4 linked regions of the Homo sapiens genome follow. The protein of the gene in region 3 interacts with the protein of the main gene of each other region in a pairwise test. Each region holds a gene or a part of one and is shown on either strand. Other genes may lie near its edges. The genes, in order: TTLL10, MRM3, FHL3 and CREB5.

Evidence for each region.
Region 1: the proteins of FHL3 (region 3) and TTLL10 interact in binary tests that used the Homo sapiens proteins (3 or more experiments, as listed by UniProt).
Region 2: the proteins of FHL3 (region 3) and MRM3 interact in binary tests that used the Homo sapiens proteins (3 or more experiments, as listed by UniProt).
Region 4: the proteins of FHL3 (region 3) and CREB5 interact in binary tests that used the Homo sapiens proteins (3 or more experiments, as listed by UniProt).

What each region holds. Positions count from the first base shown.
Region 1 is NC_000001.11:1,176,857-1,183,886, reverse strand, and holds part of TTLL10 (inactive polyglycylase TTLL10), read right to left. Parts: intron 4,982-7,030; coding exon of another isoform or gene 4,672-4,981; coding exon 4,554-4,671; intron 4,523-4,553; exon of another isoform or gene 4,332-4,522; intron 4,231-4,331; coding exon 4,150-4,230; exon of another isoform or gene 4,034-4,149; intron 3,854-4,033; coding exon 3,547-3,853; intron 3,405-3,546; coding exon 3,286-3,404; intron 3,157-3,285; coding exon 3,027-3,156; intron 2,147-3,026; coding exon 2,072-2,146; intron 1,527-2,071; coding exon 1,441-1,526; intron 1,012-1,440; coding exon 840-1,011; intron 1-839. UniProt on the Homo sapiens protein: Inactive polyglycylase.
Region 2 is NC_000017.11:778,019-785,377, reverse strand, and holds the start of MRM3 (rRNA methyltransferase 3, mitochondrial isoform 1 precursor), read right to left. Parts: upstream 3,026-7,359; 5' UTR 3,000-3,025; coding exon 2,686-2,999; intron 2,296-2,685; coding exon 2,051-2,295; intron 1-2,050. Other genes in the region: GLOD4 (glyoxalase domain-containing protein 4), read left to right, coding at 3,123-3,212, 4,640-4,764, 6,634-6,756. UniProt on the Homo sapiens protein: S-adenosyl-L-methionine-dependent 2'-O-ribose methyltransferase that catalyzes the formation of 2'-O-methylguanosine at position 1370 (Gm1370) in the 16S mitochondrial large subunit ribosomal RNA (mtLSU rRNA), a conserved modification in the peptidyl transferase domain of the mtLSU rRNA.
Region 3 is NC_000001.11:38,002,514-38,009,376, reverse strand, and holds the start of FHL3 (four and a half LIM domains protein 3), read left to right. Parts: upstream 1-3,862; 5' UTR 3,863-4,020; intron 4,021-6,863. UniProt on the Homo sapiens protein: Recruited by SOX15 to FOXK1 promoters where it acts as a transcriptional coactivator of FOXK1.
Region 4 is NC_000007.14:28,821,504-28,826,410, reverse strand, and holds the end of CREB5 (cyclic AMP-responsive element-binding protein 5), read right to left. Parts: 3' UTR 517-4,907; downstream 1-516. UniProt on the Homo sapiens protein: Binds to the cAMP response element and activates transcription.

The sequences.
Region 1 (7,030 bases), about 37 Mb from region 3:
CCACGGGGCCAGCCTGGCCTGCATCCCCTCACACCCCACCCCGGGCCTGTTCCATTTCCTCAGCGCCCCGCCTCTGTCCCAGGTGTGACCTCCAGGGAAAGGGGGCATTTCTGGGCCTGAATATGTCAGGGGAATTGGGAGGAAAGGCCTGGCACCCTGATGGGTGCTCCAGGGCATAACCGCAGTAGGAGCCTGGAGGGCTGCCTGGAGGAGGAGGGCATGAAGGTGGCTTTGGAGAGGAAGGGAAGGAGCGCGCCAGGCGGGCGCTAGGCAGAGGGAGCACAGCAGGCAGAGGGGGTGCGCCAGGCGGAGAGCTCGCCAGGTGGAGGGACGCGAGGGAGGAGCCGATGGAAGCTGGGGACGGCAGACGGCAGCTGTGGTCAGAGTGAGGCTCTACGAGGGCCGGGGGTGAGGTCGACAGGTCTAAACCTTCAGCCTCGTGCAGCCACGGGGCTTTCTGGAGGAAGCCTTCCCACTCAGGGAAGGAGTGGTCAGCTTGGCCATAGGCCTGAAGGCTGCAGCTGGCTGGCTGGGCCGGGGAGTAGGGGGGCTGGCAGCCGGGAGGCCACCCAGGCCAGGCCACCTGCAGGACAGAGGGGGCCCCAGCTGAAGGACAAACTGACTAACCCCTCAACCCTGGATCCTGTGTCTGTGACCCCGGCCTGGTGTGACCCCTCCCCTCTGCTGGCTACACGGGGGCCCGGCTGTGGTCTGCACAGGGGCTGGTGGTGCGGCTGCTTTCCACGACCAAGGGCTCCTCGGCGGCCCTGCTGACTGCACCAGTGGGGCCCGGGTCAGCCAGCCCAGACCCTCACCCCTCCGGGCACCCGCCGCCGCACCTCTGCACCACCCGCGCCTGAGGCCCCCGGAACGGCGTCTTGTGGTGGATGGGGTCGTCCTCCATGCTCCGGGTCTTGGCCTGCAGGGCGGCAACTTCCTCCTGGTTCCGGAGCAGGAAGATGCCTTTGCCCTGGTTGGAGGCTGTGGGCTTGCAGATCCATATCTGGGTTTCTGCAGAGAGCGCGGCCTGAGCCCCTGGCCTCGCCCCCAACCCAGCCACGCCCCTCCTAGGGCCCGACCAGGACCCTCCCCTCCAGGCTGCGACCCTCGGCCCGGCCATTCCAACCTTGGCCCTGCGCTAACCACACGCCTGGCCCCAGCTCCTGCCCGTGCCTCGACCACGCTCACCCGGACCAAGCTCCAGCCCTGGCCCCAGTGCCCTCATACCCCAACCTCCACGAAGGCCAGACCCTCCCCTTTCCAACTCCTCAGTCCCCACCCAGACCAGGCCCAGCCCTGGCCCCTTCCTGACCACCTCGTCTCGTCCCAGCCCCACGCAGCCCCTCCAGACCCAGCCCTGCCCTCATCAGCCCCCGCCTTGGTCCAGCCCTCACCCTGTCTCCCCAGGGCCAGCCTGGTGTCCGGCCAGCAGCGTCTCACCATCAAACAAGGTGAAAAAGGCCTCTCTCTCGTGTTTGAGGTCCAGGCGGTAGGTCTCTGGGAAAAACTCTTCCATTCTCAGGACCCTGCAGGGCAGGGAGGCAGGAGGATGAGCTGCTGTCCCTTCGCCCCTGGCTGGGTGGGCGGTTTGAGGCCCAGCCTGTGGCCCGGCGGGAGGGAGTGTGGGCAGTGGCACCTGGCGCCCGCGGCCGTTCTCCTTGTGGGGACTTTGCGTTTCCTGCCCCTTTGCAGCACCCCCCCAACGGGCTGTGCTGCTGGCTGCATCCTTCTGGCCGCTGACCCCCACCCGGGCCCCTCCCGCTGGCTGCTTTTTCCCTCATGGTTGCTCTCCCGGCTGGCACCGTCTCAGCCATTTGTGAGCCACCACCTCATGGCAGTGTCCTCACGGCTGGGATGGGCGGAGAGCGTGGCCTGAGCCCCTGGCCCTGCCCCAGCTCTGTGTGCACTGGGGGGTCAGCGTGGATCTCGGCCTGGCCTGGCTGAACCTCTGACTCTAGCTCGTGGTTTTCCTTTGTGTGGGACCCCCGCCCCGCTTTCTCCTTTTCAGACGACACCAGGTTTAGGTCTGAACTTCGGTCTGAAGGGCCCCTCACAGCTGGGCTGAGTCTACCTCTGTGGCCTGAGGTATCCTGGGCTTGTCCACGGGAGGTCCTCCAGGGCGGGCGCTGCTGCGTCCTTTTCCAGCCTGCAGCCCAGGGGACAGAGGGCCTGGACTGAGGGGCCAGCTCATGGTGCTTGGAGCGGGTGGGGACTGGGGGATGGGGCATGGGTGGTGAGTGGGCGGACTGTGAGTTGTGGTGGAAGGAGGTGGCTGGGTGGACGGCGGTGCCTGGGGGAAACAGCTGTGTTGCTCTAGGCTGGAAGTGGACGCTGGACATGGTGTAAAGCTGGTGTCACAGGCAACCAGGGGCGGGGGGTGCAGATGGAGGCAGCTGCGGTTGGCTGGGCGGGTGCTTGGTGCAAAAATGTCTGGGCCAAATGAAGTGAGGAGGGATAGGTGGGTCCATAGAAGGGCAGTGGGCAGGGCTGGGAGCAGGAGGACGAAGTCGCTAGGATGGATGGCCCAGACTTGGGTGAGCGATGGACGGCCTCACTCAGGGCACCCACAGGTGACGGTGGGCACGGTGTGGGATTGTGGATGGATTGGATGGATGTTTGGGGTGAAGGCAGATTGACAGGTGGGTTGTACCTGGGTGGGTCTGTGAGATGGACAGGTGGGTGGGTGTCAGGCCCAGTGGGTTGGGGACGTGTGGGATCTTCCCCGTTCAGCCACGAGGAAGAGGGTGGGTTTATGGGACAGGGGTTTGGCCCTTTAAAGGACAGGTGGAAGGTGGAGGCAGGTGCTGACGGGTGGGGGCTGGGGCCAGCCTGGGAGCCCAGGTGGCCAGGGGCAGGGGCAAGGGCAGGGGCAGGGGCTGGAGCCAGCCTGGGAGCCTGGGTGGCCAGGGGCAGGGGCAAGGGCAGGGGCGGGCGCAGGGGCAGGGGTGGGGCGGGTGCAGGGGCAGGGGCAGGGGCAGGCGTAGGGGCGGGCGCAGGGACGGGGGCAGGGGCAGGGGCAGACTCACCTGGCCTGGACCCCCCCCGGCACCTTGCTGGCCTTGCTCATGGCCCGTGCCCGTCCCCGAAGGGTGCTGAGCAGCCCGATCTTGGTGGTGAGGAGCTTGTTGTTGGGAAGCTGGTACAGCAGCTGCTCTCCTGGAGGTCAGAGGCCAGGGCTCGTGTGGAGGGAGCGCAGGACCTCGGTCCCCACCCCTCCAACCTGCCCTGTGCTCCGGCCCAGGAGGCCCCTGCAGGCTGCCCGCCTCTGGTGCCGGCTCCCGCTACCTTCCCGGAAGCTGCCGTAGCTGTCTCGGCTCTTGACCTCACACCACTTCAGCGTGTAGTCGTCCCGGCGGCTGTCATGGATGCGCTGCCAGCCCTTGCTTTTGCAGTAGGAGCTGATGCTGCGAGGGGTGGGGGCGGGGGTGACCTGGGGGCCGAGGCAAGGGGTTGGGGATGGCGGGCGGCCAGCGGAGGCCGGGCTGGGCCCCGGGAGCAGGCGGTGGGTATTCAGTGGGACCACGGGCGCCCAGGGCCGCTACTCACATTGTGGCCCCGTTGCTGCCTCCAATGTAGAAGAAGGGCCCCGGCCGGGTGCTGTGGGGCGATGGCTTCCCACCCCCCAGCAGGAGCCCCTCCAGGAGGGCAGCTGAGGGCCCGGCGGCGTTAGTGTCATCCGAGTCTGCAGGCCGGTGGCTGTTCAGGAGCCCAGGGGGTCCGGGTGTGGCAGAGGCTCTTTCTGCCCCCTCCAGGTCCGGCCCACAGTGTCCATCTGCGTCGTGGTCTGGCTGGCTTGGCTGACACCGGAGTCCCTCCTCCTGGCTGCTCCCCATTGGCCTCTCGTGGGCCGGGCCTGTGAACGGGGTGGGGTCCCACCGGGGTGGCTACGGGAGCTGCCCACTCAGCCCGGACATGGCTCAGCCAGTTTGCTCCCAGCCCATTTCTCCAATACCCTGGACAATCCCCCTGGCCCGTCTGGGGCTCAAGTTCAGCCCGAGCTCTGGCCCCACCAGGCGGCCTGGGGACTGCTTACATCTGGGGAGGGGCCGTGACCACCCTCCAGGGCCAGGCTTCCTGCCGGCAGGTTCCAGGTGGGGGTGGGGAGCTTGGAGCAGGGGGCAGGGAGGTCGCCCCTCCGACCCTCCTCACCAACAGGGCAGTGGCCTGGTGCAGGGCAGGGGCCGGGCTGTGAGGCCGGTGCTGGGTGCAGACGTGACGCAGGGATGGTCCCTGGAGGGCAGGGGTCACAATGTCCATGATGATGTCATGGGTGACCCAAGGGGCCATTGTCAGGCCGGGAGACGAGGGGCTGCCCTTCCAGGGGTGGTGCCAGCCAGGCGGAACCCTGGGCCGCGGAGCGCGACAGCTCCCCTCTGTGCCTGCAGAGCCCGGCGCCCACAGCTGGCCCCTCTCTCGGAGCAGCGGGGCATGGCCATGTGTGGATCCTGCCCCTGCCCCATGAGGCCGACTGACTTCCTTGGGTATGGGGCACCCGTCCCAGGGAGGCCTTGGCCTTGGAGAGGTAGGAGGCCACCCAGGGCTGCTCTATTCACCTGAGACTCGAGCCCGAGGCCTCTGCTGGATCCTTGGCCTCTTGCCCCTCTTGAAGCCGGCTCGGGTCCGAGTGGGTGGTCCCCGGCGGTGGATGAACCGGGTGCAGCTGTGGTCCATTGGCCGGGGGGTGCCCGGGCGAGGGCCCTGAAGGGAAGATGCCGCTCTGACCCTCCTGTGGGACCTCCGCGCGGCCCGAGGCCCCAGTGCTTGGATGGAGCAGGCAGTCAGGCCCACCCTGCCCAGGAAAGGGCGCCTCCCAGGGCCGTGGGCTTGAGCCTCTGCGTGCGGCTGGCTCCCGTCTCTGTGGCAGCTGTGGGGCCTGGCGCCGTGTGGGGGCGAGGCTGTCTCTGCACCCTGTCTCTGCCGGGCATGTCCTCCCTGGCCGGAGCGGCTCTTCAGGTGTGGCTGAGCTCGGCCTGGGTGCCGGCTGGAAGGAGGGGCAGCGTCAGGCCTGCTGGGTGGGGCGCCTGCCTGAAGAATGGAGGGTGGGAGGGCTCCTTGGCCTGAGCAGGGGTCTTCTCTGTCTCCGCTGCTGACCCCGGAGCCCAGCTGTGGGCTGTGTGCAGCCGCCTGGTACCTGCCATCAGGGTTCCTCTGCGGCCGCCCCTGGGTGCCAGGCCCGACCCCCAGGACACTGTCTCCAGCAACACCTTCCCATGTTGCAACTTAGGAATTTTCAGCCAGTTCCTCGACAGATCTTTCTACCTCTGTCTCCAGCAAACAAACCCATCTTGGGGCTGCTTGGGAGGTGAGAACTTTTTTTTTTTTTTTGAGACGGAGCTTCATTCTTGTGGCCCAGGCTGGAGTGCAATGGGGCGATCTAGGCTCACTGCAACCTCTGCCTCCCAGGTTCAAGCGATTCTCCTGCCTCAGCCTCCCAGGTAGCTGGGACTACAGGCACCCACCACCATGCCCAGCTAACTTTTTGTATTTTTAGTAGAGATGGGTTTTCTCCATGTTGGTCAGGCTGGTCTCAAACTCCCGACCTCAGGTGATCCGCCTGCCTCGGCCTCTGAAAGTGCTGGGATAACAGGTGTGAGCCACTGTGCCCGGCTTAGGTGAGGGCTTTCAAGGGTTTGAAGGAACTCGCCCAGGAGACAGGGGAGCACACGGCAGTGTTGGGCAGAGGCTGTGGGGGCTCTGAGGCTGGAGAAGGCTGGGGTAGGCCTGAGGCTCCAGGCTGGGCACAGAGCTCGGCACCAATCTCACCCGCAGGAAGCCTTTGTGTCTGCCCCTCCCTGCCCCGCCTGAGTGACAGGAGGGAAGGAGACAACGAGGAAGCCCACGGGCAGGGGAAGGTGGGGAAACTGAGGCAGCCGTCTGCACGATGACCCAGTCGGGTGGGGCCACTGGGACCCGTCCTCAGGGAGGAGCGGAACACAGGCTGGGCCCCCCACCTGTGTCTGGGAGAGCCTCACGCCCTCTTCCTAGGGTGGGCTGGGCAAGAATGGAAGAAGTCAGGAGCCCTGAGACCCCTCCCCACCCAGAACAGGAGGACTTTTGGAAGAGGCTGGACCCTGCGCAGGCACGGAGCAGGTGTGTGCGTGCAAGACTCTGCATTAAATGGGAGACCTCAGCTCCTTCTCATGGGCCCTCAGCACCCAGGATTCCTGCTGGGGAAGGGGATCCTCTAAAGTACTGACTCTCAGCCAAAGGGGCTGCCCAGGCCCAACAGGCATCATCAGAGGGACTCCCAAGTGTGAAGAAGAGTGACACAAGGACAGCCGGGCGCGGAGGCTCACGCCTGTAATCCCAGCACTGTGGGAGGCTGAGGCGGGCAGATCATGAGGTCAGGAGATTGAGACCATCCTGGCTAATATGATGAAACCTTGTCTCTACTAAAAATGCAAAAAATTAGCCGGGCATGGTGTTGGGCGCCTGTAGTCCCAGCTCCTTGAGGGGCTGAGGCAGGAGAATAGCTTGAACCTGGGAGGTGGAGCTTGCAGTGAGCTGAGATCGTGCCACTGCACTCCAGCCTGGGCGACAGAGCGAGACTCCGTCTCAAAAAAAAAAAGAATGACACACAGACACATTTACACACACACACGCACAGACACACAGCTACACACAGACACACACAGACATGTCGACACTTGCACAGATGCACAGACACACCTACACACACAGACACATGGATGCACAGACACACCTACAGACATGCACACACACACCTATAAACATGCACAGACACACCTACAGACACCTACACACAGACACGTCTACACACACACGTACACACAGACACACACACAGACACCCACACACACACACAGACACCCACACACACAGACGCTGACACACACAGACACGCAGACATGTAGACACACAGACACACAGACGCACACAGAGGAAGAGAAAAGGGGAGAAACAGGGAAACAAACCAGCCTGGAAAAGGCTGGGGTGATGGAGACAGGACCCCTCAGAGAGCCGCGTGCTTTTAAAGCAAAGGCACAGAGAATACAAAAGAGCCGGTGGG
Region 2 (7,359 bases), on a different chromosome or scaffold from region 3:
ATCTCTAAAGTTTTATGGAAAGAATTTATGGGAAAAGAGAAAAATTGGAAAAAGGCTAATAACAATATTAAAAATGGCTTTGAGTACATGAAATTGCTGTGGTATAGATGAAGTTATTCACATGGGTGTATCACATATCCACAAGTTTCTTTTTGAATCACCATGTTTACTGGTAGAGGTGATAATGATAACCTTTTAGTAAGCTTTTTTTTTTAAGCCAAGCACTACCCTAAACTCTTTATGTATAATTATCAAATATTCAATCCCTTTGTAGTCTGCTCCCAAGGGACTGTACAGTTTTTTTGAATCTTACTAGTATTTTGTCGTATATGATTGCTACAATAAATGGGCTACTGACTGAAGTCAGGAGATGAATGAAATAGTACTTGTACTGAAACATGATACAATCAAAGATTTAGGATTCTTTCTAAAAGATGGTGCAGGTAAAAAGCCTATCCACCACTGAAGGCAATGGAAGGGTATTAGGCGTCTGTGTGCTGTGAGAGAGCCTCCACTTCGGAGTCACAGATGGCCAAAAGCCATTCAGTAGGGCTGAGGACCTTAGAAGTCCTTTACTTCTACTTGGATGTCTGTGGTGATGAGAACCCACTATACGGAGGCCCTACTTATGTCGCTGGATTCTGGGGAGTGTCTGTCTAAAGCCTGACAGGTGCTGCCAGTTCCTATCCATTTCTCCCTTATTCCCTGCCCTCAAATCTAAAATATAGTAACATAAGGATAAGCCAGGAAATGATGAAAGCAGGTATGATGATGAAGTTCAAGATGGGTTGGCCACTGTAAGCACACCTGCCCCAAGTGACAAGCACAAGTTCAAGATGGGCTGGCCACTGTGAGCACACCTGCCCCAAGTGACAAGCACAAGTTCAAGATGGGCTGGCCACTGTGAGCACACCTGCCCCAAGTGACAAGCACGGTAAAAATGAATAACACTTTCACTGAAGCATGGCGTGTGGATTAGAGGGCTGTAGCTAGTGAGAATATGGTTACTTAGCATGAGTAATTCTAGGTACTTTAGTAATCCAAGTCCCCATCCTAGGATCTAAGAGCTCTGAGTGCAGAGGCACAGATCCCTGTGACTCACTGGGTTACAGAGACAAGAGATGGTTCCCCAGAATCTCCTCTCTCAGCAGTTCAAGGATTCAGTTTTCATATCTTAAAACTCCCATGTCAAAAACGTATGAAAAACTTATCTTCTCATATTTAGACCAAAGACTTTGTAACTGCTAATCAACATCGGAGTTACATAAGGTTAAGTCAGATTCAGCCAAATGAAGGAACAGACTAGAAGACAAGGTTCTCTGTTTATTGGGCTAAACGGGGCAGTAAATTGTGGCTTGTACCTCGCTTCTTAGATCTGCTTCTGGAATAAGCAGTTTATTGACAGTTATCACCACATTGGCAGAGGTTTTGCAAAAATGAAGGGCTCAATCTTTCAGTAAACGCTTTCTTAATTTTTAATCTGACATAGAAAGTTGAAGAAGTAATCTAAAAAATAGAAGGTTTGAGGAATAGTGGTTCTTCCTAGAGACCATAAAGAGCCACAACACAAATGATAGTGAAAAACGGGTTTCAATTTCCATTGAAAATACTCTAAGATACACAGGTTTGAGAATTATATTTTTCTAATTGTAACATTTTGAATTTCATTTCAATGCTGCTGTCCTAAGACAAGTATGAGAAATTAATCCTAGGTCTCCACACCTTAAGATACACTGTGTAAGGCCAGGCATGGTGGCTCACGCCTGTAATCCCAGCACTTTGGGAGGCCGAGGCAGGAGGATCACCTGAGGTCACAAGTTCGACGTCAGCCTGGCCAACATGGTGAAACCCCACCTCTACTAAAAATACAAAAATCACCCGGGCATGGTGGCAGACGCCTGTAATCCCAGCTACTGCGGAGGCTGAGGCAAGAGAATCCCTTGAACCCGAGAGGCGGAGGTTGCAGTGGGCCGAGATCGCGCCATTGCACTCCAGCCTGGGTGACAGAACAAGACAAAAAAAAAAAAAGATACACTGGGTAATCACTAACCCATTATTCCTTGTGGCGTTACGAGGTCGGACCAATCCTTGATATCCTCAAATTTCACCTTAATGAGGCTGACACCTTTCAGCTTATCGACTGGCAACTCCTTTAGGTATTCTAGACGGCTAAAGAAGAACATTTTTGGCACAGCTCCAGCCTTGAGAGCGTCTGAAATGAGCCTGCGACCTTCCAGCAGGATCTTCCCTTGTTTTTCCCGAAATGGCCTGGACTTTACTATTGTCATTACACTGCTGTAGATGGAAATAAAAAAAAAAAACAGGTAACTATCAACATCCTTGTTACTGAGACACGCTTAGTTGTAACAGAAATAAAGAGCTACGGAGAGGGCCGGGCGCGGTGGCTCACGCCTGTAATCCCAGCACATTGGGAGGCCGAGGCGGGCGGATCACCTGAGGTCAGGAGTTCCAGATCAGCCTGGCTAACATGGTGAAACAAAAACAACAACAAAGAGCTAAGGAGAAACAGAAGCTAATTCCAAAGACGCTTATTCGGCCCTCTGTGCATAATACAAAAACCAGCGGGCTGTACTGGAAGAAGTCCTCCATCGGAAGGAGGTTAAGGTTCCGCTGTGCGACGGGAAGGGAAACGAGAACATTCGACAGGCTCAAGAACCACATCACCTCAGCCTCCTGTCCCCGGGATAAGCTTTATCGTAGCGAAGCCCAGACTCTTCCCAGGTGCTGGGAGCGCGGGATGCGGACTCCTCGAGCGGTTGTTTCTCTCGTTGCTCCTGGGCACTGGCCTCAGATGGTGCCTTGCGGGGCTGCTTCCCAGGAGCGCGCTTCTGTTCCACCACCTCTCCGGAAGGAAACACCACTTTCACTGGGCTCCGCCGCAGCGCCCGGACCCAGCGCCTCGCGTCAAGGTCCCAAGCCTGGACCACCTGCAGCAACGGTCGCACGACAAACCTCGCGGGTCTCACCAGCGCCGCCATGTTCCCTGAGACCCGGGCTGCGTCACGAAAGCGCGCCGTCGGCGGCTAGTGACGTCACGGCCCGTGGCGCCCTTCGTGGACTGGGCTGTACGGTGCGCGTGACGGCTGCGTGCGGCGGGAATCATGGCTGCTCGCAGAGCTCTGCACTTCGTATTCAAAGTGGGAAACCGCTTCCAGACGGCGCGTTTCTATCGGGACGTCCTGGGGATGAAGGTGCAGGCCGGGGCCGACAGGGGCTGGCGCGCGAGGCTGGAACCGGCGCCCGAGCCGGCCCTGGCGGAGGGAGGGGAAAATGGGTGTGTCGTGAACCTAAGCCGGAGGGTGTCCGACCTTAGGCCCTGCGCGGTGTTCAGCTTCAGGAGCGTGGCGAGTTGCCGTTGGGGATCATAGGCCTTGGAGAAGGGCCTAACACGATTAGTCCCCGCGGTGTGCCCACGCACGTCCTTTCATTTAAGCCACTCGTAAACGTTTATTGAGCCCCGCCCTTGTGGAGCTTACCGTCTACCGGAAAAGACGGTAAATAAAATGTTATATAATGCTTTCTAGTTAATATTTGTGTTTTCCGGTTTGGAGCCTTTGATGTAGATAAAATCAGCGTATTCAGAGTTCTGCTTCTAGCAAGGCTGGTCTGAATAGTCCGTTTCGGATACTCAGTCTCTGAATATATGCTCCAACTCTCAACCCATCTGCTTTTCAACAGCACCCAGAAGCGGTCTGTCTCGGGTCCTGAGGAGCTGTTATTTGCAGGATTCAGTTGGTTGGGGAACTGGGTTTTGGGGACCTCCTTTGATAAGCCAGGGAGGTAGGGAACACACCACTAAGGAAGACTTGAAAGGTGCAAGAGCGCGGTTTAGTGTATAGACGGTGCAATAGACGGGGATCTGAATTCGTCAGGTCATTTTTAAAATATCTGCTATTTTCAGGGTACTACGTTGAGTTTTGGCAACAAAGGTGCAAATGACCCTGATATATATCCTCCATTAGAGCTCATGGCCTGGGTTGGGGTGGGAGTTGGAACTGGATTTGTACGTAGATGATGGTAATGGAAGTCAGAATTTGATAGTGAAAAACCACCAAACTTTCGATAGCAGAAACCACAGAGCTGTCCCTTGTTAGTATTTCCTCGTCGATCAAAAGGTTGTTGCAAAGATTAAACACGTGCCGGCGCGGTGGCCCACGCCTGTAATCTCAGCACTTTGGGAGGCCAAGGCGGGTGGATCACTGGAGGTCAGGAGTTGGACACCAGCCTGGCCAACATGGTGAAACCCTGTCTCTACTAAAAATACAAAAATTAGCCGGGCATGGTGGCACACGCCTGTAATCCCAGCTACTCGGGAGGCTGAGGCAAGAGAATCGCCTGTATCTGGGAGGCGGAGGTTGCAGTGAGCCGAGATCGCACCATTGTGTTCCAGCCTGGATGACGAAAGCAAAACTCCGTCTCAAAAAAAAAAAAAAAAAAAAGATTCAACACCTTATTATATGTATAGTATTTAACATATCGGTAATAGTAGATTATATAAGTGTTAGCCACTATTATAAAAATACAAAAGAAGGAGCGGTTTTCCAACCTGGGTGATGAGGAAATAATTCATGTAGACCTTGTATTCGAGTTGACTTTTTTTTTTTTTTTTTTTTTTGAGGTGGAGTCTTGCTCTGTCGCCAGGCTGGAGTGCAGTGGCGCGATCTCGGCTCACTGTAAGCTCAGCCTCCCGGGTTCACACCATTCTCCTGCCTCAGCCTCCCGAGTAGCTGGGACCACAGGCGCGTACCACAACACCCGGCTAATTTTTAAAAATATTTTTAGTAGAGACGGGGTTTCACCGTGTTAGCCAGGATTCGAGTTGACGTCTAAAGATAGGATATCCACAGGTAGATGAGAGGAGGAGCTACATAGTAAAACTGAAGAGCCAGTGCGGAGATGGCACATGTTTGCGAAGCCGCTGGTTTTATGTGCCTTTAGTTGAGGTTGCTTAGTTGAAGTTAAGGAGATGGGATATCAGGATGGACAGGTCGGCATTGCTTCTAATAGTATCTTGAATGCTATGCTAAAGAATTTGGATTTTATGCTGCAGTAAGATGGGAGCTCACTTATGTTCTTAAACAGGGTGGTGATGGGATCAGTGCTTTGTGCTTTAGGCATGTGCTTTTTTGGTGTTATTAAGGAAGGATATCAATAAGGATTTTTTTATTTTTTATTTTTTATTTTTTTTATGTTGAGACGGAGTCTCGCTCTTTCGCCCAGGCTGGAGTGCAGTGGCGCAATCTCGGCTCACTGCAAGCTCCGCCTCCTGGGTTCACACCATTCTCCTGCCTCAGCCTCCCGAGTAGCTGGTACTACAGGCGCCCGCCACCACGCCCTGCTTATTTTTTGTATTTTTAGTAGAGATGGGGTTTTACTGTGTTAGCCAGGATGGTCTCGATCTCCTGACCTCATGATCCACCCACCTCGGCCTCCCAAAGTGCTGGGATTACAGGCGTGAGCCACCGCGCCCGGCCAATAAGGATGATTTTTAATAGTCTGAGCGAAGCGTTGGGAACTTCAACTGGCAGGAGCCGTGGGAATCAAAAAGGAGGGCTAAAGCTAACACGTTGAGAGCCCGCTGTGTGCAGGGTTCTGTGAGATGCTTTCATAACATCCATTCCCATCACATGTTAGGAGACTGAGACTCAGATTCTAATTTGCTCAGAGTTACACAACTACTAAATGACAGAATTCCAAATCAGACTTTTTTTTTTTTTTGAGTTTGAGTTTTGCTCTTGTCACCCAGGCTGGAGTGTAATGGTGCAATCTCAGCTCATTGCAACCTCTGCCTCCCGTGTTCAAGCAATTCTCCTACCTCAGCCTCCTGAGTAGCTGGGATTACAAGCGCCCACCACCATGCCTGGCTAATTTTGTATTTTTTATATTTTTAGTAGAGATGGGGTTTCACTGTGTTGGCTAGGCTGGTCTCGAACTCCCGACCTCAGGTGATCTGCCCACCTCAGCCTCCCAAAGTGCTGGGATTACAGGCGTGAGCCACGATGCCCATCTTTTTTTTTTTTTTTTTTTTTTTTTTTTTAATTTGAGATGGAATTTTGCTCTTGTCACCCAGGCTGTAGTGCAGGGGCACGATCTCGGCTCACTGCAACCTCCATCTCATGGTCCAAGTGATTCTCCTGCCTCAACCTCCTGAGTAGCTGGGATCACAAGCACACGCCACCACGCCTGGCTAATTTTTGTATTTTTAGTTGAGACGGGGTTTCACTATGTTTGCCAGGTTGATCTTGAACTCCTGACCTCAGGCAGTCCACCCACCTTGATCTCCCAAAGTGCTGGTATTATAGGCGTGAGTCACTGTGCCCGGCCCAAATCAGACTTCTTTAATGCTGAAGGCCACACTTTTTCCCACTGCATAGCACTGCTTACCAATCTAAATAGATTTCACAACTGATTTGGTAGCCTGACCCTTGGTGTCAAGCTGTTCGTCCTTCCACTGCTTCTATCCTGGGAGAAGTGTAAAGCTCATTTGCTTTTGTTCTTTTACAAGTAAAGCTTATAAATGATAATGTTTGTGTTTTGACATTTTAGTCTGTGCTAAAGACGCTGTGAGCAGTACTAGCAACACTTCACAATTTATTCTAAATCTCACACCAGGTTCTGCGGCATGAGGAATTTGAAGAAGGCTGCAAAGCTGCCTGTAATGGGTATGATACCTTGTTTCTTAAAATCTCCTTTAGGCTCTGACTACACCCGGATAACAGAAGACAGTTTCTCAAAGTGAGTATAAAGCAGTGGAATTAATTAAGGAGGCAGTAAATTAGGGAGGCAACTTCAGGAGCGTCGGGAACACATACTGTTTCTCTGCACTCTCATGAGTATAAAGCAGTGGAATTAATTAAGAAGGCAGTAAATTAGGGAGGCAACTTCAGGAGCGTCGGGAACACATTTCTCTGCACTCTCATACAACACCTGTGGGACACAAAGGGATTCTCCAGCTCTCTAACACCAGCCGGCTGTCCTGTTATTTAATTGATTCTGACTCTACCTGGAGTTAATGTCAGATCCTGCAAGTTAAGGGCTCAGTCCCAGAAGATTTTCCGCCACGTCAGGCGCCGGTCACAGTCTGGATCTTCAGGATTTCCGATGACCAACTACAAGTCAGGGCTCCCGCTCCTGCTTCCTTGGGTTTGATAGTCTGCTACAGTGGCTCATGGAACTAAGGGAAACGCTGGAAACACTTACTTACATTTACTGGTTTATCATAAAGAGTACGAGTCAGAAATGGCTGGACAGAGGAGATACACAGGGCAGGGCATGGGGAGTGGGTGGCAGAGCTTCCATGCTCTTCTGGGCAGGCTCCAATCCAGCACCTCCCTACGT
Region 3 (6,863 bases):
GAGTGAGGGACAACAGGATCCTACTCACCCAAGGCCAGTCATCCAGCTCTCAGGCTCTGCTTCCAGCCCCAGTTCAGACACACCTGTTTCCCAGGGAGGGAGGAGGACAGATAGGGAACAGGAACAGGGAGTCCTTGTGGCTGATCCCTGGACTTCCCTGGGGCACGTCCTCCTGGGCCAACGAAAATAGAGTGAGCAGAGAAATGTGAGCCTCCTGGGGAATGGAAATTGAGACAGGGAGACACAGCTTCACTGTGGGCGGCTTGCCCCTAGGCCGCTCTCCCTAGCCCAGGTGGCCCAAGCCAGAGAGCTAACTTTCTCTGGCCCCCAGACTCCAAGTCCAAGTAGCTGAACCTTAACATTTGATCATGAAAGTGGGGACTGTCCCCACATATTGACAATCTATTGTGTGCTCTCATCCAATCCTTACAACAATGCTGTGAGGCAGACTCATTCACTTTTCACAGTGAGAAGACTGAGGTTCACAGAGATTAAATGACTACAGATACTAGAGCCTAATGGTGAAGCTCATTTTTGGCATAGGGTGCTATGACTTCTGACTGTCCAGATTTGATTTTTTATTTTTATTTTTTTCCCCAAGACAGAATCTTGCTGTGTCGCCCAGGCTGGAGTGCAGTGGTGCAATCTTGGCTCACTGTAACCTCCTCCTCCTGGGTTCAAGCGATTCTCCTGCCTCAGCCTCCCAAGTAGCTGGGATTACAGGCATGCACCACTACAACCAGCTAATTTTTGTATTCTTAGTAGAGGCAGAGTTTCACCATGTTGGCCAGGCTGGTCTCAAACTCTTGACTTCGTGATCCGCCTGCCTCAGCCTCCCAAAGTGCTGAGATTACAGGCGTGAGCCACCGCCCCCAGTCGGTTTGATTTTTTTTTTTAATAGAGATCGGGGTCTCATTATGTTGCCAGATCTGGTCTTTTTTTTTTGAGACGGAGTCTCGCTCTGTCACCTAGGCTGGAGTGCAGTGGTACAATCTCGGCTCACTGCAAACTCCACCTTCCGGGTTCACGCCATTCTCCTGCCTCAGCCTCCAGAGTAGCTGGGACTACAGGCACCTGCTACCACGCCTGGCTAATTTTTTTGTATTTTTAGTAGAGACGGGGTTTCACTGCGTTAGCCAGGATGGTCTTGATCTCCTGACCTCGTGATCCGCCCGCCTTGGCCTCCCAAAGTCCTGGGATTATAGGCGTGAGCCATCGCGCCTGGCCCAGATCTGGTCTTAAACTGTTGGGCTCAAGCAATCCTCCTGCCTCAGCCTCCCAAAGTGCTGGGATTACAGGCAAGAGCCACCAAGCCCGGCCAACCATTGGGATTTGTATCCTAGCTTTGCCATTATTACCTGTGTCGCCCTTGCCAGGTTACTTAATCTCTCTGTGCCTCCATTTTCTCATCTTTAAAATGAGGATGAAAATATATATTTAGGCCAGGAATAGTGGCTCATGCCTGTAATCCCAGCACTTTGTGGGGCTGAGGCAAGAGGATTGCTTGAGCCCAGAAGTTCAAGACCAGCCTGGGCAACTTAATAAGACCCCTGCCTTTACAAAAAATTAAAATTAAAATAAATTAGCTCAGTGTGGTGGCCCACACCTGTAGTCCCAGTTACTTGGGAGACTGAGGTAAGAGGATCGCTTGAGCCCAGGAGGTTAAGGTTACAGTGAGCCGTGATTACACCACTGCACTCCAGCCTGGGTGACAGAGCAACACACTGTCTCAAAAACAAACAAATATAGATGCACATATATTTAATAAAGTTATTGAATAATCAGGTATGTCAATATATGTAAAGTGTTCAGGACTGGTGCAAAGAAAGAACTCAGGAAGTACTGGCTCTCATTAAGGCTATTTAGGAGAGATTAGAGCCATGCATCAAGAACAGAGATTCCAATACTCTGCCTTTTATCAGGCCCCTTCTGTACTCACTCATAACCCCTTGCTTTCTGAAGGCTCCCCACCTTTGCCCTCCCGTCCCCCAGAGCTGACCTCCTCTTGGTACCCACTCCACCAAGGCTGAGTAGTCTTCACTGCACTCCCCTGGGCTGGGAGTCTCTTACACCTGCAAGATACATCCCAGAGAGGCTGGGCATGGTCACTCATGCCTGTGGTCCCAGCACTTTGGGAGGCTGGGGCAGGCAGATCAGATCTTGAGGTCAGGAGTTTGAGACCAGCCTGGCCAAGATGGTGAAACCCCGTCTCTACTAAAAATACAAAAAAAAAATTTAGCCGGGCGTGGTGGTGCACACCTGCAGTCCCAGCTACTTGGGAGGCTGAGGCAGAAGAATCGCTTGAACCTGGGAGGTGGAGGTTGTAGTGAGCGGAGAGTGCGCCACTGCACTCCGGCCTGGGCAACAGAGCAAGCCTCCATCTCAAAAAAAAAAAAAAAAAAAAAAAAAAAAAAAATCCCAGAAAAAGGCCCCATCCATGGGCTGGATGCTCACTGCCTGGACTCCAGATAGCAGGTGCCTGTGATCCAAACCGAGGATGTTAGAGGGGCATACATACTGAAGCAGTGTCTGGTATCCATTCATTCATCAGATGTTTATTATGTGCCGGATATTGGAGTAAGTACTGAGAAGGCAGTGGGGAACAAAACGGAGCCCTGCCTTCATGGCTCTTACCATTTAGGCAACAACAGCAATAATAAGCAAGCAATGATTTAATTTTGAAAGGAAACCAGACCTGGTGGGTGACTTGGGACCCAGGAACCCAGGCATGATGCAGAGATGGGACGGAAAGGTTCTCAGGAGCCCCAGCCTGGGAGGGTGTTAGTTCCTCCGTGAGAGCTCTGCTACACCCAGCCTGGGGTGTGGGGAGGCCTCTGTGGGCACCTGAATCTTCACTCTAGATGCTAAGGTTATTCCGGGGTTGATTTGTTGTCTCTTGTTTCCACAAACAGCACAGTAGAGCCTCCTGCCTCCCTCCCTCCCCCACCTCTTCCAGACTGAGGCTATTTATTCCTAGTGACAAGCCTGAGGATCCCAGGGGGGGTGGCCTTAAGGACCTGGAGGGGCCTCGTGTCCCTAGCAGGCGCCAGTCCTCCCTCACGGACACAGGGAGGAAGCCAGAGGCTCAGACACCGCAGAGGTCCCCTCCCCTCTCCTCCACCACCCCTGAGGTGCCCCATCCTCTCACACTCCTCACACCCCACCCTAGAAGCCCAAAGATCATGGGGCCGAGGATTAGGGTCTCCCCCGGGCCTCAAAGGTCAAAACTATTCCTGGGCACTGCGGAAACCCAGGCAAGGCAGGACTTCTCAGTGTCAGGAGGCTGCTGGAAGTGGGGAGGTGGTTACCCCTGTTTTTGCTACTCAAAGTTGTGGAATAAAACCCTTTGGAGGTCAAGGCCCTATGGTGGGGAGGGGTCCTCTCTTCGTCCCATGTTTTCAGAGAACACCTTGGTGCCCGCTGACAGGCTCATGACAGCAGAGTCAAAACGTCCTCCTCCAGGCTGGATTAAGGCCGGGCTGAGTGTCACCCCTGGGGTAAGGTGAAGGGGTGGGGGGATCCGAGGAGGCCAGAGGACTCCCCCAGTGGACCATGGTCTGCGGGGTCTCGTGTCGCCGGCCTGAGATGGAATACAGCAGTCTCCCTCTGGCAGCTGGGGATGGGGGGTGGGAGGGGAGGAGAACAGAGGCTGCGGGGAGGGGACAGGGGCGGGGTCCCGGCCGCTTGAAGGTTGGGAGAGCCAGGTTAGGCCGGGCGGGAGGAGGGGGCCGGGCCGACTGGCGGCCGAAAGGGAGGTGGGGGCGGGGTCTGGCCCCCGCGGCGGGCTGGGGGGCCGGGGGCGGGGTCCGGGCGGGGCGGGCCCGCGCTCACTTCCTCGGGGAGGGGTTGGGGCCGCGCTCCCACTCGCCCACACGGTCCGTCTGCAGTCGGCAGCCTCGCCGGCAGCTCGCTCGGCCCCCGCTTGGCCCGGCCCGCAGGTAGGAGCCGCCGAGGGACGCGGCGCCCGGTTCCCGGCCCCGCCTGCGCCGCGCGCTCCCCGCTCCCGCCGCCCGCTTCGAGGTGAGCGCCCCGCCGACCCCGGCTCCCAGCCCTGGCGGTCCGCCCCCGCGCCCAGGCCGGGGAGCGAAGGGACCCGCGGAGGGCTGAGGCCAGCCGCGGCCCCGGTCCCCTGTACCCGCCGGGCTCTGGCCACGGGTGCCCGGGGCACGCCGAGCCCGGGACAGCGCCCGCCGGGACTGGACCCCTCCGGGCTATCGGGCGGGGCGGGGGCGGGGGCGGCAGCGAGAGTTGGGCGGGGGAGGGGGCTAAGTTTGAAATAGAAAAGCCGGAGAGAGACAGACAGACCGACCGACCAGAAGCGCTGGAGAAACTGAGGTTCTCGGAAAGCCCGGTGGAGCGAGAGACCGAGACAGGCAGGGACTCGAGGCACAGGAGGCTACCGAGACCACTGAAACAAGGACACACCGGGCGTACAGAGTTACTGGTGGACAGACCCGAGGCATGGGGGCCGTCCTAGGCTTTGTGGAGCATTTTCAGAAAAAGCATACGTGGGACCCCAGCGAACACATTCCCTAGGGCCCTTCCCCGGGCCTTGGAGGTGCCCTGAGGCTTGGGCGTCATTGGCCTCATGCTGAATCTGCTCTCTGAGGCCTGCAGAGACGCTCAGAGACTAGAGACAGAGACATTCAGGCGTGCAGAGGTGGCGAAAGAGACTTGGATGCAGAGACAGAGAAAGGGAGGTGGTGGGGATTGAGACATTCAGCCATGTAGACAAGAAGAGACCAAGACTTGAGATCCACAGAGGCATGGGCCCCCTGGGGGACAGCCAGTCAAGATACAGAGCCGTCCAAAACCTAAAGACAGAGACTGAAGTGTGCCCAGACACAGAGATGCTGAGTGAAGCAGAGACAGACACCAGAAACTGAGACTAAGTGGGGGCAGAGAGACCTAGGTGGTCTGACAGCTTCCAGGACAGCCCCTGACTTACCCGGGCCTGAACCATTGGGAGGTGAGGCTGTGGGGAAACAGAAACTCTGAGCCTACCGATCCCCCATGAGGCAGAGGCCCTGAGACAGTAAGTTCGAGATCAAGAAGAGCCCCACGCACACACACAGCCACCAAGACAGCCCCAACTTATTTTTGAACTCAAATCTTGGATGGGCTGCCTCAGCCCTGGGGGACCCAGGGTGAATGAACTGTTCCTCTCATGTCCCCAGAGCAGCTGCGGGATCTTGCTCCCCAACCCCCTTCCCTAAACTTCTCTGACTTCCAGGCCACATGGGGGAGAGCAGAGCTTGGGGTTGGTGCCCGGTAGCAGAGGGTGAGGGTTGAGGGAGTTGGATTTCTCCCCTTAAGTCTCCTGTCAGCTTCTAGAAGGTGGGGGAGGGGTCTGTTCTGATCCTGACTCACAGCTGTGGGACCTGGCCAGGGTCCTCCTGGACAGTGGGCATGTTGGGGGTGGGGGCAGAAGGATTGAATGGTTGGCATGGGGCATTGGAAAGGCTTCTGGGTGTCTTCCAATCACAGGGCTAGCAGCTGAGGAGAAGAGCCAGGCTCTGGTGCATCTCCTGTTCCCCTGCCCTTAAAAACTGACCACCCCCATGTCACCATCCGCTTCATCACCAGGGCAGCATTTTTAGGGAGAGGGAAGAGCTCTGGGCTGGGAGGCAGGGGACCTGGGTCCTGATCGGGACCTTGGGCATGAACCTGCTCTATTCCTGGCCTCCTTGTGCTCAGCTGTAAAATGGGGATGATACTCTGTCCTGCCTGCCTTTTGTGAGATCTGATGAGATTGTGGTGGGCATGGACTTTGTGAGTGGCAAAGCAGCATGCAGGTGTCTACATCCGTGGACCTGCATGAGAGATCTCAAGAGTTAAGCTTACTAGAGTCAGGCTGACCGGACTGAAGCGACCACTTTCCCCACTGGTGTCCTCAGCAAGCCCCATGGGCCTGGGGCCCCCTATTCTCTCCCTGGGCCTATGCTGAGAATGTCCAGGTCAAATTTCAGACCAGGCTGGGCACAGTGGCTCACGCCTGTAACCCCAGCACTTTGGAAGGCTGAGGCCAGAGGATCACTTGAAGCCAGGAGTTCAAGACCACCCTGGGCAACATAGTGAGAACCCCATCTCTACAAAAAATAGAAAAACCTAGCTGGGCATGGTGGCACATGGCTGTAGTCCCATCTACTCAGGAGGCTGAGGCAGGTGGTTTGCTTGAGCCCAGAGTTGTTTTTTTTGTTGTTGTTTTGTTTTGTTTTGAGACAGAGTTTTGCTGTTGTAGCCCAGGCTGGAGTGTAATGACATGATCTTGGCTCACTGCAACCTTCACCTCCTCGGTTCAAGCAATTCTCCTGCCTCAGCCTCCTGAGTAGCTGGGCTTACAGGCGCCCGCCACCATGCCTAGTTAATTTTTGTATTTTTAGTGGAGATGGGTTTTCACCATGTTGGCCAGGCTGGTCTTGAACTCCTGACCTCAGGTGATCCACCGGCCTTAACCTCCCAAAGTGCTGGGATTACAGGTGTGAGCCACCTCACCTGGCTGAGCACAGAAGTTCGAGGCTGCCGTGAGCCATGATCGTGCCACTGCACTCCAGCCCTGGCAACAGAGTGAGACCCCAACTCAAAACAAAAAAAAAAAACAAAAAGGCTGAGCGGACACCAGCTTGGCCAACATGGCGAAACTCTCCATCTCTACTAAAAATACAAAAATTAGCTGGGCATGGTGGTGCCCTCCTGTAATCCCAGCTACTTGGGAGGCTGAGGCAGAAGAATCGCTTGAACCTGGGAGGTGGAGATTGCAGTGAGCCGAGATGGAGTTAACTGCGCTCCAGTCTGGGTGACAGAGTGAGACCCTGTCTCAAAAAAAAAAAAAAAAAAAAAATTGGGCTGGCACTGTGGCTCAT
Region 4 (4,907 bases), on a different chromosome or scaffold from region 3:
TTTATTAAGAAAGTAAAGGAAAGAAAGAATGGCTACTCCATAGACAGAGCAGCCCCGAGGGCTGCTGGTTGCCCGTTTTTGTGGTTATTTCTTGATGATATGCTAAACAAGGGGTGGATTATTCATGCCTCCCCTTTTTAGACCATATAGGGTAACTTCCTGTCGTTGCCATGGCATTCGTAAACTGTCATGGCGCTGGTGGGAGTGTAGCAGTGAGGACGACCAGAGGTCACTCTTGTCACCATCTTGGTTTTGGTGGGATTTAGCTGGCTTCATTACTGCAAACCGTTTTATCAGAAAGGTCTTTATGACCTGTATCTTGGGCCAACCTATCTCATCCACTGACTTAGAATGCCTTAACCTTCTGGGAATGCAGCCCAGTAGGTCTCAGCCTTATTTTACCCAGCTCCTATTCAAGATGGAGTTGCTCTGGTTCACATGCCTCTGACAAGACTATGTGAGGAATAGATGTCATTACCCCCAACCCCAAATTTCATCATACAAAGGTGACATATATTATTTGCATTTGAGTGCTTTATTATATTGGAATTGCAGTGATATTAACATTTGTACAAATGCACAAAATCTTGTCTCTTCTTGCTAGAAAGAGATGTAAAAATCTGACCTAGTTGAACAGTCTTAATGAACTCATTGTCCATTGGTAACAATAAATGTGTTCACGATGCAACAAAAAGCTTAACACAAAATTAAACATATTAAATGCTGCAGCAAGTATTTACATGTATGTACCCCTTTTTTTCTCCTTCCAATAAGGAAGGTGGTTGCTTTACAAATAGACAAACAAACACAAATGCTTTGCTGTTTACAAATACAAAGAACCCCAAGTCCAGAACTTAAAGTGACAGCACCTTTTTGGGACTTCCTCAGTTAACACTTACTTTACACAGTGCTAAACTTTTTTCTTTTAATTATATTTTTGGACAATATTTATATTCCAATTGTCCTAGAACATTGTATTTGAACTGAGCTATTTTTCTGGGCCTTTTCAGAGGATCCCAAACCCTATGTCCTCTCTAGAGAGAACATTTCAAGCTTATCTGTTCTCCAAGACAGTTCTCAAAGGCAACATTCCTTTCTCTATGAGGCAGATGTGATTTAGCAGAACTTAGAAGGGAAAAAGGTGAGTAGGTTGTATTTTCTACTGGCTGCTGGTTGGGAAGGGTCCTTTCTCTTAAACTCCCTCCACTCAACACAACTGATACCTTTCATTATCTCCTGTAGTGTCTGTGGCATTGGTATTCTAAAGGAGAAAACTAGAATCTAATGAGCTTATTGTGCATAAGATTTTAATGATGTATTTAAAGCTAATTTATTCAGCTTCCACATTCTCAGTCCTGAGGCTAAATTATTCTATTGTAAAATATCCAATCCTATAAAGTTCTATAATATGAAGCTCAATGTAAGAATATCTTAAATGGCTTAGAAGGAGCTTTCTAGATCCTGGCTTCTAATGAGCTAGATATTGTAAGTTGGTCTAAATACAACAGTTGGTAATTATTGATTCCTTTCTGATGACAAGTTGGAAAGGTATCAGAGTGCCACTTAAGAGTATTAATCTTTTAACAAGTGTTGGCAATTTGGCCTTACCCCCCACTTCAGCTGTGGTTAAATAGCTTTTTTAAAAAATAGACAATTTATAAGGAAAAAAATATATAAACACTCTTTAAGCAATTTGGCTACAAGCATTACATCACTGAAAAACTCCACAAGAAATAGTAAAATATTTTGAATGGACATTCACTTTTTCATTTTCACAACATGATGAGCTAGGTTTTTTGTTTTTTAAATTTCTTTGTGTTTGTTTTGGTATTGAATTTTACTTGTAAGTTTATTGCTGCTGTGTCGTCTTATCCTACCTTAGATTATAATTGTGAAATAGAGGTGCTGTCCCTAATTATGTTACAAGGCAACATTGTATTTTTGAGACCTAGGAATGAAATCGATAGGGCCACTGTTCTTTCAGTGGCCTCAGAGAGTCTATGGCTAGGACAACAGTCAGATGTGCACCAGGGTGCACAAAAGAATAAGTCTCCTGGCTTATTCAGGACACTTTGGTTTGGAAGGTGAGAGAAAATTCTTAAGTATAGCTTAGCTGCTGCCTCACATCTGTTGCATAATATAACATTTTTAAAAAACATGCTATGAATAAAGGGATAAAGAGTATAAACCATATAGTGTACTGGCTCTTCTCCTTGGCATTCTTGTAGTAGGCTTCACCTAGGCTGATGTGAGACACAGGTCTCAGCTGTGCTACCAATGGACGCACATAAATGTACCTGGTGCAAATATCTGTAAAGTATTTTAAATGATGCCGCTCAGAGCCTTGGAGGAGGGGTGGGGGGTATTGTAAAGGAGAGCAAAGGCAAGTTTGAGGACAGAGAAGAGGTTAGAAAGAGAATAAGAGAAATACAAAGGGATCAAAAAGCTAAAGTGCAATTTTTAAATATAAATTATTTTAAAAGCAGAAAAGAGATTCTAAATTGCTACTGTTCGCATAGGCACGGTTTTATTCAAATTTAAATGGGTTGTTTCCTTTCCCTTCTCAGATATACTGCATAATGGAGCTTGAATGGCTTAAAGCTACTGCATATTGTTCGGGAAGGGACAAAAAGCACTAAGGGAGCTGAATAGTGCAAGGCTTTCTAGGAAATTGGGGTGGGGTGGAGAGAGGCAGAGATGAAGCTGTTTTTACACTTCTACAAGAAAGCTGTTCCAGTTAGAGTTACTGATTCCCTTTAGCTGAACTCTGCTTCCTAAATGAAAGAGCTTACTTTAAAAATGAACACACAGAAATAAATGTTTAAAAAAAACTGTTCAGAATGTTGATTAAAAAATAACTCACAGAGCAATAAAAATCCTTGAAATGTCTATGCACAGAGATCTAAGCAAACATTTCCACCAAATGATGGAGAATAGCCATTTGAAACCCTGAAAAATGAAAATACACATAACTATAGTAGTTTATTATGGACTAACACTTTAAAAACAAGTAGATCCTACAGAATACTGTTCAAATGGAATGTTTAAAAATAACATTTATTAATAAATATCTTATAAAATTCTAAATTAATAGATTCCTGTTCAAATTTTGCTTTGGTCCTTTGAATTCCACTGTATACACACATACATACATATATATTTTCTTAGATGGTTTTTCCTTTTTTTAACCAGAAAGAAACACATTCTATCCTAACTGGATGGCTAGTTTTATAGCAGTTACCGAGGCTTAAAACTCCCCAGCCAAAGGCTTGTCTGTTACCGCAGCTGGTTTATGATTTTAATGACAAACTCAACTTACACACTAAAGTTTACTTAACAGGCAACAACCACCAGAACATTCACCGTCGACGTCCTTCTATCAGAATACGCTCTCCATTTTGTTTCACTGACTACATAGGATCTGAAGAGTATTTGCTCTAAGTCACCCTAATTACTATAATATATACTGTGAGCACACAAACTGCTTGTCTCCCACAGGCTGTGTTAAGACTGTGACTTGCATCCGTTGATGTGGCCGCAGGAGAGGGCTGAGTAGTAGTGTAACGGGAAAACATCCGACTTAACACTTGGCTTTCAAATTAGTACATTCATCCATGGCTGGGATTTTCACTCTACCTCTCCTGGCTTCGTGGATTGAGAAATGTGTCAAGGAGAAACAATTAAGATGTGGACACCTCCATTTAAGTGACAGTTTACCTGATAGAAATGCTCTCAGGTGTACTTATCTGAGTTGTTAACTCCCATCACATAAGGCAGGGGAGGCACTATAGACGTTCCCAGGGAGGCTGGCAGTGACTTCAGAGACAGATCTCACCGATCAAGAAAACCACACACGAATGGGGAGAGGCAGTGTGACAGGATTTTCCCTCCTTAGGACAGGTGCTCTGCAGGCCGTGATGATTGATTCATGAACACATGGATGGGTGACCCAGTAACTGGCTGAGGGAGGAGAATGGAGTACAAAGATATTCTCCCAAACAGGCAAAAAGTGTAGGACAAGGAGGAGGGATTTTCAGGCAGATTGATTATTCTGTTGTCTGGTGACGGCTGGGCCTTTAGGTAAAAGACTTAATATTGATAAGCCAAGTGTTGGATTTGACCAATGTATCTTTCTGTTTGGAATTTCAAGAAGCACTGACAACTAGTTGGAATCTTTCATTTACTGTATTTCCATACCGTGAATGAACACACCTAAAGGCCCTGAGTAGAACAAGAAGACAGTTTATTCTAATTATATGTTGAGGCCGGTTTGCTAATGTGTGTGGTTGGTTTTCCTACTTAGCATAAAAAACAGACATAATTGAGCTATATATAATGCACATCAGTCAAACTGTCAAGTTGCTGAACGAAGAAAACTCAGGCAAGTTCTTAACTGCCGAGGCTTTCAGCCTAACAACTAAATATTTCAATCAAAAGGTGGAACAGAAGTAAACTAAACCATCATTGTAGTGACAGTCACTCCCTGGACATTCTGATATTACTAGTGGATTTTTTAAAAATCCATTTTATTAAGTGCTATGCATGCAGTAAAGAAAGAAAAATTTTTGTTTACTTAAAACAAAGCAAAACATAACATAAAAATTAAAAATTAAAAAACCCAACTAAACATTTTAATGCACTCTTTCTCCTTTTTGTGGAGGGGAGGGGAGACACATAGATGGTCCTAGGAAAGAATTTTGAAATATGATTTTTGATTTCAAAACAGAGATATGAATGTTAACTTCTTTTTAAAGCTGAGTCTTAAACATTTCTTAGGAAGCCAGTCAGATTAAACCATTCAGCTGTTACTGTTGGAATTTAAAAAACAACAACTATGAATTCAGTATTTAAAATACTCGAAAATGATATGTTTGTCTAAAATATAATAGAAAATTATTCCATTTGCA